Linked DNA regions of Homo sapiens: region 2 is linked to region 1. The links come from fine-mapping of genetic effects on gene expression. Tissue or cell type: whole blood. Region 1 holds a variant in brackets; the other region holds the start of a gene. All regions are shown on one strand. Distances are from middle to middle.

What was found.
Region 2: RALGDS starts here. The variant in region 1 is fine-mapped to the expression of RALGDS in whole blood (INTERVAL, PIP 0.93).

The regions. Positions count from the first base shown.
Region 1 is chr9:133,087,549-133,095,873 of GRCh38, reverse strand. It overlaps LOC124902343 (small nucleolar RNA U13), which reads right to left and starts at 2,822; the gene lies at 2,723-2,822. RefSeq lists an enhancer at 4,885-5,386. The variant T/C (reference allele first, on the strand shown) is at 3,247.
Region 2 is chr9:133,117,286-133,125,610 of GRCh38, reverse strand. RALGDS (ral guanine nucleotide dissociation stimulator) reads left to right here and starts at 4,371. Exons shown (of 18, transcript NM_006266.4): 1 at 4,371-4,639. The coding sequence starts at 4,457. RefSeq lists a silencer at 4,082-4,791 and an enhancer at 4,771-5,467.

The DNA of each region.
Region 1 (8,325 bases):
GCCAACATGGTGAAACCTTGTCTCTACTAAAAATACAAAAATTAGCCAGGCATGGTGGCACATACCTATAGTCCCAACTATTTGGAGGCTGAGCCAGGAGAATCGCTTGAACCCGGGAGACGGAGGTTGCAGTGAGCCAAGATCGCACCACTGCCCTCCAGCCTGAGCGACAGAGCAAGACTCCGTCTCAAAAAATATTCTCAAAATAAAGTGCTGAAAGAAGAAGCAAAACATCCTTTAAGGATGAAGGAGAAATTAAGACATTCTCAGATAAAAGTTAAGGGAGTTTTATTAGTAGACCTGCCCTACAATAAATGGTAAAGGGAGTCCTTCCAGCTAAAATAAACACTAGACAGTAACTTGAAGCCATATGAAAAACTAAAGAACACTGGTAGAGATAACTAACAGGTAGTTAGCAAAGCCAGTGTTATTTCACTTTGGATTTGTGTAACTCATCCTTTTTTCTTATGATTTAAAGGTAAAATTCATAAAGCTATAAATCCACATTAATGGAAACAATGTATAAAGATATAATCTGTGACTGACAGAGGGAAGATGTGTAATAGCAGTGTATACTACTTAAATTCAATTGGTATTATTGAAACTAGATTGTTATATGTTTAAGATGTTACTTGTAATACCAAAAGTAACCAGTAAGAAAATAACTAAAAAGTATATAGGAAAGCAAAGAAAGGATCAAAATTGTACAAAAGTAAATCCGTAAAAAGCAGTAGTGGAGGAATTGAGGAATGAAAATCATAAGACATACAGAAAACAAACAGCTAAATGGCAGAAGTAAAGGTTTTCTCATTAATTACTATAAATACAAATGGGTTAAGTTCTCCAATTAAAAAGCAGAGATTGGGCCAGATGCAGTGGCTTACACCTGTAATCCCAGCACTTTGGGAGGCTGAGGTTGGAGATGGCTTGAGCCCCGGAGTTTGAGACCAGCATGGGCAACACGGTGAGATTCTATCTCTACAGAAAAATTTTAAAATTAGCCAGGCATGGTGATGTGCATCTGTGGTCCCAGCTCTCAAGAGGCTGATGTGGGAAGATCGCTTAAGCCCGGGAGGTCAAGGCTGTAGTGAGCTGTGATCCTGCCAATGCACTCCAGCCTGGACAACAGAGCAAGAGCAAGACCCTGTCTCAGGAAAAAAAAAAAAAAAAAAAAAAAAAAAAAGATGGGCAGAATGGATTTTTTTAGAACTTTGTCTATCTATATGCTGTATAGACTTTTTTTTTTTTGAGATGGTGTTTCACTCTTCACCCACGCTGGAGTGAAGTGGCACGATCTTGGCTCACTGCCACTTGACCCCTGGGCAAGTCTCCCAAGTAGCTGGGATTATAGGCACCCACTATCACACCCAGCTAATTTTGTATTTTTAGTAGAGACAGGGTTTTGCCACGTTGGCCAGGCTGGTCTCAAACTCCTGACCTCAGGTGACCTGTCCGCCTTGGCCTCCCAAAGTGCTAGGATTACAGGTGTGAGCCACTATGCCCAGCCTGTAGAGACAAATTTTATTTTATTTTGAGGTGGAATCTCACTCTGTCGCTTAGGCTGGAGTGCAGTGATGCAATCTCAGCTCACTGCAAACTCCACCTCCCAGGTTCAAGCAATTGTCCTGCCTCAGCCTCCTGAGTAGCTGGGATTACAGGTGTCTACCACCACACCTGGCTAATTTTTTTGTGTGTTTTTGGTAGAGACAGGGTTTTACCATATTGGCCAGGCTGGTTTTGAACTCCTGACCTCAAGTGACCCACCCACTTTGGCCTCCCAAAGTGCTAGGATTACAGGCGTGAGCTACTGCACCCGGCTGAGACAAATTTTGAATACAAAGATACAAAAAAGTTGAAAGTAAAATGTTGGAAAAAGTTATTCCATGAAAATAGTATATTTTAACAATGGCTATAGTATTATCAGACAAAATAGATTTTAAGTCAAAACCGTAACAAGACAAGGTCAGTATACACTGACAAAAGCTGCAACTTCTCAAGATACAACAATTGTATCCATACACACACTTAAAACACCCAAAATGTATGAAGCAAAAATTGATATAATTAAATGAGAAATACACAATTGGAGATTTCAATACCTCATTTCCAATAATGGATAAGAACAACCAAACAGAAGATCTATAAGGAAAGAGGATTTGAGCAACTCTATAAACCAATTAGACTGAGCAGACATATACACAACACACAAACCAGCAACAACAGACTACACATTATTGTCAAGTGTACATGGAACATTTTCCAGGATAGACCATATGTTAGGCCATAAAGTAAGTCTTAATTTTTTTTTTTAAGACGGAGTTTTGCTCTTGTTGCCCAGGCTGGAGTGCAATGGTGCAGTCTTGGCTCACTGCAACTTCCACCTCCCAGGTTCAAGTGCTTCTCCTGCCTCAGCCTCCCGAGTAGGTGGGATTACAGCACCCGCCACCACACCCGGCTAATTTTTGTATTTTTAGTAGAGATGGAGTTTTACCATGTTAAGCAGGTTGGTCTTGAACTCCTGACCTCAGGTGATCTCCCTGCCTCGGCTTCCCAAAGTGCTGGGATTACAGGCATGAGCCACTGCACCCAGCAATAAATTTTTAAAACGAAATTATACAAAGTATCATTCCAATTACAATAGGATAAAATTATAAATCCATAGCAGAAGAAAAACTGGAACACTCATGAATATGTGGAAGTTAACGCACTCTCTTCTTTTTCACGTCAGATGGGTAACGTGCCGACGTAAGGGTTTGAGGGTGACACATCTCACGCATGTGCATGAACACCCAATCATCATTGTTCATCAACTACAAAAGGATCTTAACACTCTTCCCCTCCCCGACTCCAGACGGAGTCTTGCTCCATCGCCCAGGCTGGGGTGCCGTGGCACGATCTCAGCTCACTGCAACCTCCACCTCCAAGGTTCAAGCAATTCTCCTGTCTCAGCCTCCTGAGTAGCTAGGATTACAGGTGTGCACCACCACAGCTGGTTAATTTTTATATATTTTTTAATAGAGATGGGGTTTCACCATGTTGGCCAGCCTGGTCTTGAACTCCTGACCTCATGATCCACCTGCCTCAGCCTCCCAAAGTGCTGGGATTACAGGCGTGAGCCACCGCGCCCAGGCTTAACACACTCTTAAACAACCAATGGGTCTAAAAGGAAGTCACAAGGGAAATTAGAAGACACCTTGAGACAAAACAAAAACACAACATACCAAAACTTACAGCATGCGGTGAAAT[T/C]GAAAGCAGTGCTTGGGGGAAATTTATAGCTGTAAACGACTACATTAAAAAAGCAGAAAGATCTCAAATCAATAATTTATCCGCACACATTTAGGAATTAGAAAAAGAGCGAACTAAACCCAAAGCTAGCAGAATGAAGGAAATAATAAAGATTACAGCAGAGATAAACAAAATAGAGAATAGAAAAATAGAGAAAATCAGCAAAACCAAAAACTGGTTATTTCTAAAGAACAAAATTGACAATACTTTAGATGAACAAAGAAGAGACAAGACTCAAATTACTAAAATTTGGAATGAAAGTGGGAACATTCCTACCAACTTTACACAAATAAAAAGGATGAGAAGATAATGCTTTATAAGAGAATGCACCATTGCATGCCAGCAACATACAGTGGAATATTATTCAGTCATAAAAAGGCCAGGTGCAATGGCTCATGCCTGTAATCCCAGCACTTTGGGAGGCCAAGGTGGGTGGATCACTTGAGGTCAGAAGTTCAAGACCAGTCTGACCAACATGGTAAAACCCCATCTCTACTAAAAATACAAAATTAGCCGGGTATGGTGATGAGCACCTGTAATCCCAGCTACTTGGGAGGCCGAGGCAGGAGTATTGCTTAAACCCGGGAGGCAGAGGTTGCATTGAGCCGGGATTGTGCCACTACACTCCAGCCTGGGCAACAAGAGGGAAACTCCGCTTCTTAAAAAAAAAAAAAAAAGGTATGGTATGCCCACACATGCTACAACATGGATGAACTTTGAAAACATTACAATTCCACTTATGAGAAATATCTCCAAAAGGCAAATTCATGGAGACAGAAAGGATAGAGGCTACCAGGGGTTAGAGGGAGGGGAAATGAGGAGTTAGCTAATGGATATAGAGCTTCTATTTGGGGTGATGAAAAAATTATGGAAATAGAGAGTGGTGATGGTTGCCCAACAGTGAATCGAACTAATGTCACTCAATTCTACTCTTAAAAACAGTTAAATTAGCATCAGTTTTGTTATATAGGTTTTACCACAGTTAAAAAAAAAATAGTATCTGTAAGGACCATTTCCTAGCCCAGGTTGGTGGCTGCCTTTCTACAGCTTTAGGGGAAGAGGAGCATTTTCTGCTTGTCTTGCTGAGGTTTCTGTTGACCACCAATTAGGAACTTGTGGATTTCAAGGTCTAACTCTGGAATTTAGTCAGCACTAAGAAAAATTATAAACAGATAAAATGTACAATATGGAAAGTGGGGGGGAAAAGCTAAAGGAAGAGTGTTAGCCAGTGCACGGGCAGGACTTTGCCCCCTCAGTCCCTTCTAGAGGCCCGTGGTCCACCCTTTTTCTTAGACGGGAATCTTTGTTCCTAACCATAGATTTCCATTGCCTGTGCGTTTTCTCTCTGGGGAAAGACTTGTGATGCTGTGTTAGGGTTACAGTGGGCCTCATTCCATAAGCATTCCTGCCCACAGTGCCCACGTCACAAGGCCATGGTGAGGTCAGGCTCATCAAGTGCTCAGTGCAGTGCCTGGGCTTGGACCCGGAAGAGGTGGGGGTGGTCCCGACTCTGCCCCAACAACTCTGCCAGAGCCATTGGGCACCCCCAAGGGGCCCACCACCCAGCACCCTTGGCATCCTCTGCTTTCTACCCAGCACCCTTGGCATCCTCTGGCGTCTACCCGTGAACCAGGATGCCAGCATTCCTACAACTCCTTGTGTGATTGATGTCATCCAGAAACACCTTGGAAAGCCCCATCCCCTGTGCCCTGCACACTGTGGCCACTCGTCCTGCTGGAGCCTCATGAATGGCCAGTGAGTGCTGATTGCCAGGATAAGGGTGCTGATTCCTGCCAGCAAAAGACCTCCATACTCTCCCCCGATGGCCAAGGTGAAGCACAGGTCCGTGTGGTGCTGAGGTCCAGTCTCAGGTGATCACCAATTTACAGAGTCAGTCGTGTTGTTACTGACCCATCCTAAAGGGGTAGCTGGGCCCTGAGCCTTTAGAGCTCGCAGCCCCCTGAGGTGACTGTATTCTTTGTCCACAGTCTAGGATTTAGTTATGTCCCGGTTGGGCGTAGGTGTGTTAAACACGCAACACAGGAGTTGGGGTGGGGGGAAGAGGAAGGCCACTGAGACTGAGGATCCACAAGCACAGAAGGCCACAGCCTTACAATGAAAGTGCTGAAACATGTCCCCTGTGACAGTAAACATGCGCTGGCCCGAGCTCACCCCAGTGCTCTTCCAGGCTTCCTGGAACTGGGAGCCAGCAGGACCCCAGATGGCCTCCAGCCTGTCAGTATTTTCAACTTCATCATCTGGAGTCTGTAATGGCAAGAGCCAGATTGCAGGTGACTCTGAGCTGTCTCCTCCCTCTCGACAGCTGCAGGCATCACCCAGACACACTGCAGGGCTCACCTGTGCCATGGAGGCTTTTAAAGTAGATTTTCTGTTGCTTATAACAGAATACCTAAAACCGGGTAATTTATAAAGAAAAGGAATTTCTCACAGTTATGAAGGCTGAGAAGTCCGAGGTTGAGGTGTTATAGGATGGAAGGTCCTGACTGAGTTGTCCAGGTTCTTGGTGTATTGAACAAAGAAGTGAACAAAACTCACAAAGTAACAAAAGAATGAAACAATGACAGACAAAACAGGCCAGTCGCAGTGGCTCACGCCCGTAATCCCAGCACTTTGGGAGGCCGAGGTACCTGAGACCAGCCTTGCCAACATGGTGAAACCCCGTCTCTACTAAAAATACAAAAAAATTAGCTGGGCGTGGTGGCCGGTACCTGTAATCCCAGCTACTTGGGAGGCAGAGGCAGGAGAATCGCTTGAACCCAGGAGGCAGAGTTTGGAGTGAGCCCAGACTGTGCCATTGCACTCTAGCCTGGGCAATGAGAGTGAAACTCCACCAAAAAAAAAAAAAAAAAAAAAGACAAAGCAACAAGAAAACAGCTTACCAAAGGCACAGATTGATTGAAGCGAACGTGCAACCCACAGGGTGGGAGCGGGCCCAAGCAAACGGCTCAAGGACCTCCCAATTGCAATGCTTCTCAGGGTTTTTATAAAGAACACCCCAGATGCCCTTTAGAGGCCTCCAATTGGTTACACCCTATGAAGGATTAGCCTGGGACCAATCAGAGGCTGAAGTGGAGGATTGGCCCAGGGTCAATCAGAGGTTGAAGTGGAAGCTCCTGACTTGTTATCACAGCAGTGAGGATGTGGCCTGTGTGCTCCCCAATCCTGCCTAGAACTGGCTGCACCTGCTGTTCTCTGGCTTATGAGAACGGGCTGCACCTGCTGTTCTCTGGCTTATGTGAACGGGCTGTACCTGCTGTTCCTTTGCTTATGCCCCAACCCTTGGCTTCCCTAATTCCCTCTCCTCCTGCCTCAGAGAGGCTGCAGCAGGTGAAGGCCTTCTTGCTGGTGGGGACTCTGGTGTCCCGAGACGGTACTGGGCATCACGTGGTGAGGATGCTGAGCCTGCTCACATGCTAGCTCAAGTCTCTCTTCCTCTTACAAAGCCACCAGTTACCCTCCCATGATAACCCACTAACCCATGAATCCATGAATGGATGAATCCATCTACGGGGACAGGGCCTCATGATCCAGTCACCTCTTAAAGGCAGCACCTCTCAATACTGCCACATTGGGGATTAAATTTCAGCATGAGTTTTGGCGGGGACAAGCATTCAAACCGAAGCAGAGGGATGGCGGGTGCAGCCCAGAGGTAGAACACGCTTGGATCCCCACAGCCCATCCCTTCTGACGTGGCTTGGCCATCCAGGGATGTGATTTTCTGAATGACAGACATGACTGTGCTTTCTCTCAACAAGAGACGGGTGCCAGTCCCAAGGGTTGGGAAGAAGCACTGGGGTCCCAGGGGTTTCTCCCACAGTGCTGGAGGCGCCTGAGAGCTGACTCCACAGGTAGAAACACAATAATCCCTGTGGGTACCAGTGTGGCCAAGGAAGGGACACATCATTGTATCCTCGGGCTTCCGTTGCCCAAGAGAACAGGGACAGTCACTGGGAGAGGCCCACATTGCCGGGCAGCTCCATCTCACTCAGTCTTTGACAGGGAGTCCCCTTTTTACACCAGAGACCCCTTGACCAACCCAGGAAGCCCAGGGTGGCCAAAGTGGTCACAGCCAGCCAGGGTGTCCCCTGCTTCTCCAGGGGACAGGGTTCGTCCCGGCTCAGCTCTGCTGCATGAGGCCACAGGACTTGTCGGCCCTGAGCCTTATCCTCCCACCTGTAGGCTGGAGGGGCAGAGAGAGTGGCTAGCTGGTCCTTGGGTGCTGCTGCCCTCCACCGCGGAGCCCCCCAGGCAAAGTTGCTCAGGATTCCAGAATTTTCTCTCATCTAAGCCCCACCCTGCCCCACAGTGCCTGTTTAGAAGGTAGGTGAGGAGTGGGGAAGAAGACCCCCAACGTTGTTCCAAGCACTGGCTTTGGAGTCAGGGACCTGGGTTCAAATCCTTGCTCTGAGTGACCTTGGGCACGTGATGCCCTGTCAGGGCCTCATTTTCCTCTAAATATCTATAAACGTCTAAAAGGAGGGTGTACACCATACCCACCTCACAAGGCCATGGTGAGGTCAGGCTGGTCAAGTGCTCAGTGATGTGCCTGGGCTTAGACCCAGCAGAGGCAGGAGTACTCCTGACTCTGCCTTCTGCCCTCTGCCCCTGCCCCGTCAACTCTGCCAGAGCCATTGGGCACCCCCCAGAGGCCCACCACCCAGCGCCTACTGCCCAGCACCCTCCCCATCCTCTGCTTCCAACCTTCTGGTGTGATGTGTTATTCTTTCTTCCACTTGCATCCGGCTGGAGGAGCAGAATCCCTTTCTTTTCCCAGGCGGGTTCCCCAGACCCCAGTTAGAACACAGACTTCACTCCCTGCACCCAGAGGATGTGGGTGTGGCTGGGATCCCCTAGTCCAGAGGCAGCCACAGCCTGCCAGACCCCAGCTCCCTCTCTGACTGCAGCTGCCACCAGCCCCTCCCACCATATGGGACAGAATCTAGTCCCTGGGAGCCAGCAGCCTGGTTCCATTCAGGGAAGGGCAGGCTCTGGAGTGACCTGTGCCTGACTCCCACTCCT
Region 2 (8,325 bases), 30 kb before region 1:
GCACGCGTCACCATGCCAGGCTAATTTTTTTGTATTTTTAGTAGAGATGAGGTTTTACCACGTTGGCCAGGCTGGTCTTGAACTCCTGACCTCAAGTGATCCACCCAGCTCAACCTCCCAAAGTGCTGGAATTACAGGCGTGAGCCACTGCGTCTGGCCATTTTTCTTCTTATAACTTTTATTATGGATAATTCCAAATAGACACAAAAATAGAGAAAATGGCATAAAGACCCCCAGCTTTCACGACCATCGGTGCAGGGCCACTCTTGTTCACCTCTCACTGCCCCACTCCCTGCCCGCCCCTGGAGATGTTTACATGAATCCCAGGCATGTGATGCCATCCACAGATAGCCCAAGATGTAACTCTACTAGTGACGGCAACACCATTCTCACACCTAAAAAGATGTCTAATGTCATCCAATATGTAGCAGTGTTCAGACAATCCACATGTCTTATAGTTGTTTTTTTTAAACAGTTGTCTTGCTGACATCATGATCCAAAATCCACACATTGCATTTGTTAGACGTCTCTGACCCTTCTTTTAGTCTAGTTTCCCCTTTCTTTTTCCTCTGAAATGTATTTGTTGAAGAAACTGGGTTGTTTGTCCCATAGAGGTTCCCACAGCCTGGATTTGTGGATTGCACCCTTGTGGTGTGTTGAACATGTTTCTCTGTCCCCTGTAATCCCACAAATGGCAGTTATATGCAGAGGCCTGCCTTGATTTAGGTTTGGGTTTTGAGGAGAACACTGTGAGTGGTGCTGCGTTCCTCCACTGGTGACACACGCTGTCCCAGGATGGCCTTGCCCTTGGTTAGGGTGTCCCCACAGCTTACAGGAGGCCTCAGGAGAGGGTCTTGCATGCAGGAGGCGTCCCATGAATGCCAACCCCAGTTGCTAACAGTGTGAGGCAGAGTCAGGCCCGCCCGATCTGAGGGCATTGGGCAACACATCCTGTGCAGGGAACTTTATCTGTGCCTTCATTAGGGGGGCATGTGTATCTGTGTTTCTGTCTCTATGTGTGTGTATCTGTGTCTATGTCTCTATATCTGTGTGTGTGTGTCTGTGTCTATCTCAAACTTGTTTTTTCCCTTTTTGTGGAGAATGGGGTCTTGCTATGTTGCCCAGGCTGGTCTCCAATTTCTGGGCTCAAGAAATCCTGCCTCTGCCTCCCTAAGCTCTGGGTTACAGGCATGAGCCACCACACCCAGCCTCTGTGTCTGTCTCTATGTCTCTGAGTAGGTATGTCTCTGTCTGTGTGTCTCTATCTCTGCGTGTGTGTCTCTGTTCCAATGTCTCTGTGTGTGTGTCTCCGTCTCTAAATGTGTGTGCCTGTGTCTGTCTCTGTGCGTCTGTGTCTCTGTGTCTGTCTCTATGTGTGTGTGTGTGTGCCTGTGTCTCTGTCTCTATGTGTCTCTGTGGGTCTGTGTGTGTGTCTGTGTCTCTGTCTCTATGTATGTGTCTCTGTGTGTGTGTGTCTGTGTCTCTGTCTCTATGTGTGTGTCTGTGTGTGCATCTCTGTGTATCTTTGTGTCTGTGTGTGTGTGTGTCTGTGTCTCTGTCTCTCTGTGTGTCTCTGTGTGTGCATCTCTGTGTATCTTTGTGTCTCTGTGTGTGTGTGTGTGTCTGTGTCTCTGTCTCTATGTGTGTGTCTCTGTGTGTGCATCTCTGTGTATCTTTGTGTCTCTGTGTGTGTGTGTGTGTCTGTGTCTCTGTCTCTATGTGTGTGTCTCTGTGTGCATCTCTGTGTATCTTTGTGTGTCTGTGTGTGTGTGTGTGTGTCTGTGTCTCTGTCTCTCTGTGTGTGTCTCTGTGTGTGCATCTCTGTGTATCTTTGTGTCTCTGTGTGTGTGTGTGTGTCTGTGTCTCTGTCTCTATGTGTGTGTCTCTGTGTGTGCATCTCTGTGTATCTTTGTGTCTGTCTGTGTGTGTGTGTCTCATGTACAGCCAGAGCAGTGATCAGGCTTCCCAGAAGTTGGGAGGTGAGTCCCAAAGGTAGGGGAACAAGGCAGGAAGAGGAACTTTGTAAAAACAGACACCGGCCAGAGGGACTGGCTAAGTAACGCCCTCCCCCGCCCTGGCTCCTGTAGATGATATAGTCAGATGGGAGGGAGCCAGGCCAGCCGCGTTGGGGGGTTTAGTGTGATGAATTCTTTACTCTTCACCACTCCAGCCTCCTTGGGGCCACCCCTCGCCCCAGCACCCAGGACCTTCAAGGCCAGAATAGTGGTGATTCCTCTATGTCCTCATGAGTCACTTGTCCTTCTGGGCTATAAAACGGGTGGGCGCTTGTTCCCAGGCCCATCACTCAGCGAAGGAGATAAAGAGAGCAGAGGAGATAAAGTCAGTGGCAGGCAGCTTCTGGACTTTCAGTTTCCGGAGGCATTGGGAGCTTGGCCCCAGAAGAAAGGGATGGGAGGAGGAGCTTAGGGCCGAGGGCAGTGTCTCGGTCACCTCTTTGTGGCCCTGTGGGGACCTCCTGCCTCGAAATACGCCTCACCCACATTACCCTCCCTGGCCAAACGGCTTGGAGGCTTCCTAAACAGCCTCTAGGGATCTCCATCCCAAATCAAATCTACCCATCTTGCTTCTTAAAAAAAAAACAAAAACAGGCTGGGCGTAGTGCTCCTGCCTGTAATCCCAGCTCTTTGGGAGGCCGAGGCGAGCGGTTCACTTGAGGTCAGGAGTTCAAGATCAGCCTGGCCAACATGGTGAAACCCTGTCTCTACGAAAAATACAGAACTAGCTGGGCATGGTGGCAGGTGCCTATAATCCCAGCTCCTCGAGAGGCTGAGGCAGGAAAATCACTTGACCCCAAGAGGCGGAGGCCTTAGTGAGCCGAGATCACACCACTGCACTCCAGCCTGGGTGACAGTGAGACTGTCTCAAAAACAGCATTTATCACATAGAGCTGATTATTAAAATACTGATTTTAGAAATTAGAAATTCAGAGAAGTAAAATGAAAACCAGTAGAGCTTCCACCCAGCTGCAACTTACCACCATAATTTTTGTGAAGTAGGCCCTTCTAGTCGTGTGCACATGGGGGTCTTGTTCTGAACGGATGAACTGCCGCCTCACTCCAGTCACAGTGGAAGTGTTTCGTGGGTGTCTGAGGATTGGCACTTGGGAAGGGGGCAAGATGTGCTCGTGGAATGTGCTGTCTGGTCCCGCCCTCTCAGTTTACAGATGGAGAAACTGAGGCCCAATAGTACGGACCAGACCTGGGGAGGTTGGCATGGCCAGGGCTGCTGGCAGCAATTGCTGGCCTCCATGAAGACTGAAGGCTGAGGCCAGGGCAGGCCCAGTGATGAGTGAGGCATGAGGAAGGGTCCCATTCATTCATCCATTCTCCTGGCCCTGCTGTTAAGCCCCAGGCTGTCTTCCTTCCTCACTGGCTTCCAGAAAGAGTAGTTGAGGATGTCCCTGTCCCTGCTTCCCCTTCAGCCCCAGCAGCCCCACTTCCACCCTGAGACCAGGGATGTCCAAGCCACAAGCAGCCCCAGCTGACAGGCCACGCAGCCATGTGCTCTGCCCAGCGTTGTCACTCTTGATGCCTTCCTCCTTGTCAGATGCCTCTCAGCCCCAACCTTGGTGCCTTCCGCTCTCCCCCACCTCCCTGGCTTCCCCTCCTCTGAGGGTGTCTGTAAGGGGATAGTGTGGGGCTTTGCCCCAAAAAGGTAGGGCCCCACTCTCTGACCCTTTCCCCCACTGCACACACAGCCCCACACTCAGGATTTCCAATTGCACTGACAGGGTCACTGAACACATGGTCAGCCTCTCCAAACTCCGCCTGAGCCTGTAGTCAGGTGCAGGTGCTCAGTGCTGAGTGCTTCATGTCCATTACGTAATGTCATCCTCCCCGCAACTGTTTGAGGAAGTCATTTTCACTACCCAGATTTTCCAGATGAAGAAACAGTGAGGCTCAGAGGGGTTAAGCAACTTGTGGAAGGCCACAGAGTTGGGGAGAGGCTTTGCTGGAATTCGGGGTAGCTGACTCCAGGGCGGCTTCCCCACACATGATCAGCACGTACACATTTCAGCCCTACGCAACACACGCACTGCAGCAGCGTGACACGCAAACGGTGCCTAACCGGGGTACCCAAGGCCCCACGACACACGTGACAGCCGGTCCTCCGGGAGACCCAGCCAACGCGCACCCCTCGACCTCCCCGGCCCCGCCCTCTTTGTTCAGACCCCGCCCCTCCAGGCTCCCGGTCCCGCCCCGGGTCTGACCTCGGCGAGGGCGGGGCCGCGGGCGCGCGCACGCACGCGTCCCTCGGACTCTCCGGTTCCGCCCCTCCCCGGCCCCACCCTCTTCCCCTCCGGCCCCGCCCCCCAGCCTGACATCAGCAGGGCCGGGCCGCGGGCTCACAGCGGTGGCAAAGCCCAGCCGCGCGGGCCGCGCCGCCGCCCCCGCCGCGCGCCGGGCCGGCCCCGCGCCCGCGCTGCGAGCCTTCCATGGTGCAGCGCATGTGGGCCGAGGCGGCCGGGCCTGCTGGCGGCGCCGAGCCGCTGTTTCCGGGCTCCCGGCGGAGCCGCAGCGTGTGGGACGCCGTGCGCCTGGAGGTGGGCGTCCCCGACAGCTGCCCGGTGGTGCTGCACAGCTTCACGCAGCTAGACCCCGACCTGCCGCGCCCGGAGGTGGGTGAGCTGGGGCGGTCGGGCGGGGGGTGCGTCGGAGCCTCCCCACCCGCGGCAGAGCTGGGCAGGTCGGGGCGAGCCCCGGACGGGGCCGGGCGATCCCAGCGGGCCGCCTCCCTCCTCTCTCCTCCATAGGTGGGGGTCGGGGCCTTCTGCAGAAATCAGCCAGCAGGGTGGGCAGTGGGGGCTGCCGCCGCGCCCCGTCCAACAGTAGGGACCACGGCTGGGGTTTTGCGCCCCTCAATACCGTTCCAGGGCCTGCTGTCACCAAGGCCGCTGCAGCCCAGGTGGACCTTTTTCTGCGGCACTGTCCCTGTTTACATCGGTGGCCTGTGCCTTATTTCACTCAGTTCCCACCCAGGGCCCGCAGCGCGTCGTTAGCCTTTACGATGCAGGTGTGGAACAAGTGGTCGGGAAGGCCAAATCCTAGAATCCTCAGAGGTGATGAGACCATAGGGGCCTTCCAGACAGACCCTACTTGGGGCAGATGTGGATCTGGTGACCAGGGACATCGGGGCTGCTCAGAGCGGGGTGGGGGGGGGGTCGGGGGATGGGGTGGAGCAGCAGGCCTCCAACACGTGGGACCAGATGTCCTGGTGGTGAGGGGAGGAGGGTGGCCCAGGCCCAGGGCGGGCAAGACTTGTTTCTGCTTAACTGGAAAGAGTGCCAACACCCTGAATCGGTAAGGACTGGGTAGGATTCAGAGAAGGGAGTGGTGTACCTGTGATGGATGGAGGGGAGGGTGACTAGGTGAGGGCGGGGGCTTGTTTCTCGTGTGCCCTGGGTCTCTGGGTGGTGCCATCTGCCTCCCACCTGACTGCTGCTGACTACACAGCAGAGGGAGTGGAATCCAGAGATGCCCCCCTCGCCCTGCTCTGCCTGGGCACAGGGCCTGCACAGAGGCCATTCCTGGATCGGGGGCTCAGGGCCCATCAGAGCTTTGGCTGGGCTGCAGCCTTCACAGTGAACCTCCTGAGTCCCCGTGCGGCATCGTGTTGCCTTGCTGCGTCTCCAGTCGCTTCATGGCTTTAGACTGTGGCGCGTTGTGATTGCTGGCGATTGTTAGCCTGAGTCTCGTGCCTCTTGGTGTCCCGGTACCTAGACAGGGCCTGGATGCGACTTGTTTCTCCGCCCAGTGTTGGGCAGAGCTCTTGGTGGGGGAACACCACACGCCTGAGAGACCCTTTCCTCCTGAGCTTGGCAGATGGCCGGACCAGACGTGTTCCCTCAACCCTCATCTATCCAGGGCTCTGGTCCTCATTGGCGGCTGGAGAGGGACCCCTGGGAGGGTGGGGGTGGGAGGCTGACACCAGCCCAGCGCTCATCTGGCTTTCATTACCTCTGGCAGCAGCTCGGGCTTTGTGTGCTGGGAGGGTCCGGCGGAGCGCTCACAGTGGCCGTGCAGGTTCCCTCTCTCCGTCCCTGAGGAACTGAGGGAGAGGCAGAGCTGAGCCCCACCCCTGCCTGGGGGTCTTGTCTTCCCTCTCTCTGGCCCTGGCGCTCCTTGCCCAGCCTCAGCACTGAGATCCAGACCTCGACTGCTATTTAGAAATCAAAGGGGAAGCTTCTGGCTGGGTCAGGAAAACCAGGATCCTGGCAGGAGAGGAGGCCACTGCCGGAAACTGAACACAATGACCATTTACCAAGGGCCCAAGGGAGGGGGCGGGGAAGTCCCTGTCCCTCCTGCCAACACCCCCCGTCCTGGGGCTGGTTTCCTGGTGTCTATGTGGCCTGCCAGAGCTGACGCTGCGCACTTGGTCCCTGTCCTCTCTGGAAACCACCAGACAGTTTCTGCCTTCCCCCGCATCCCTGTTTCCCTACCTAGCTTCCACCCGGTGCTTCCCTCTGGGCTGCCAGATCTCCTCACATCTGGGCTTCCGCTTATCTTCCCGATTCTAAGCCAAGCCACCAATGACCCAGCTTGGCCTGCACAGTTCTTGCTTTCTGGAGGTGACCTGGTCCGTGCCCCCATCTCTGGACAGGCTGTTGCTTTGGCCAGACAAAAAGTGCAGGTTGTGGGCCACCCCCTCACTTCATCTGCCTTAGACCAACCCTACAGAGTAGGTGCCAACACCACCTTCTAGGAAGCTAGGGGGTCAGAGAAGGGAAGTCTCTGACCTAAACACCCGTGCAGCCAGCAAGGGCCGCAGCCAGGATTTAAGCATGGGCTGTGTTCTCTGTGGCACCTACTGTGTGCAGGAGCCACCAGGAGTCAGAGGAAGCCCAGGCAGCCCAGAAGCCCTGAGGTCAGGTGAGCAGTAGGGAAGCTTATGGCTCAGAGGAAGGCAAAAGTGCTTTGGGCCACAGGACGCTGGGGAGAGCTACCTGGAGGAAGCAAGCCCAGAACTGGACCCCACAGGTTTAAGATAACAGCTAATAAGAGCCAGCAGGTTTTGGGGAGGTCCTTGGCTAAGTAATTTGCATCATCTCCTTTTGGGGTCAAGACTGTTAAGAGCTCACTTGACAGATAAAGTCACTGAGGCAACAGAGGTGAATTAGATTGCACAGAGTGACCAAGCTGGTCAGTGGCAGGGCCAGGATTCTGACCCAAGGCCTGAGGGCAGTTGCAGGTGGGCTGGAGTGAAGAGGGCTTCTCTGTATTCACAGGGAGCATCTCCCTTCAGCCTCCCGCGTCTTCCCACTGTTTGATCTCTTGATCACACTGTGTGCAGGTCTTCGGTTTAATCCCCAGGGCTCATGAGCACTTTGACACTGAAGACCCCAAGGCAAAGGGCCTGTCCCTGTGTGGGTGTGTGTCCCTGCATGCATGTGTACAGACTGTGGTCTTCCAGGAGAGCTTCCTGGGTGACTCTGAAGGGGCAGCCCCCAGGACCCTCAGGTTCCCCTCTTGCTCTACTCGGGAGGGTCCCCCAGAAGAGGGGGACCAGGCTGGCTGGTCCTGGGTCTTTGTTCCTTCTCCAGGCGGGGGATGCTCAGGCATGCTGGCCTGTTTCCCGGGAGGCTCAGGAATGGCCCTGGGAGATATCAAGCTGCTCGTTGCCAGAGCTGGGGTCTGATTCTTAACCTGGAAATTGGGCATTTCCAGGACCTGTCTGCGTTGCCAATGAGAAAAGAGTGGGGAGATTTATCACTGGCCCTCTGCAGGCAGGCTCTGAACGAGCCAGTGGAGCGGTTTCAGGAAGCTGCACCCAGGCAGTCAAGGACTGGTTCCCAAGAGCTGCTGGTTGGCCGCCCAGATGGCTCCCATGGCGTGGTGCCACCATGCTGTGGCCACCCAGTCCCAGGGTTGGACTTCCAGCCTTGCAGGCCCAGAATCACTGTGTTCCCAGATATACAGCAACAGCAGAGCAGTGTTCCCCATTTGATTGTTAAGGGGCAGACACTGATGCATGCAGCCTCATGCAGGACAAGCTGAGCTTTGAGCAGACCCAATTCTCCCAGTTCCGCACACCTTGGCTGCCCACGGGCGGGGGAGGCAGTGGGATGGCAGCCCAACAGTGGCTTGGCGGGCGGGGCAGGACACCTGCGTTGGAGGGTTTTGGCGTTTTCCTCCATGGGGAAGCTTGCATGCTTTGGCAGCCTCCCCTGTAGTCATTCCTGGAGACTTTTGTCCATCTCAACCGAGGGGCAGGGAGCCTGGGCTCTGGAGAGAAGAGAGCTATGCTGGGATGCCAGCTCAGCCCCCTAGCAGATGTAGACGTGCTCCTGAGCCTCAGTTTCCTCAT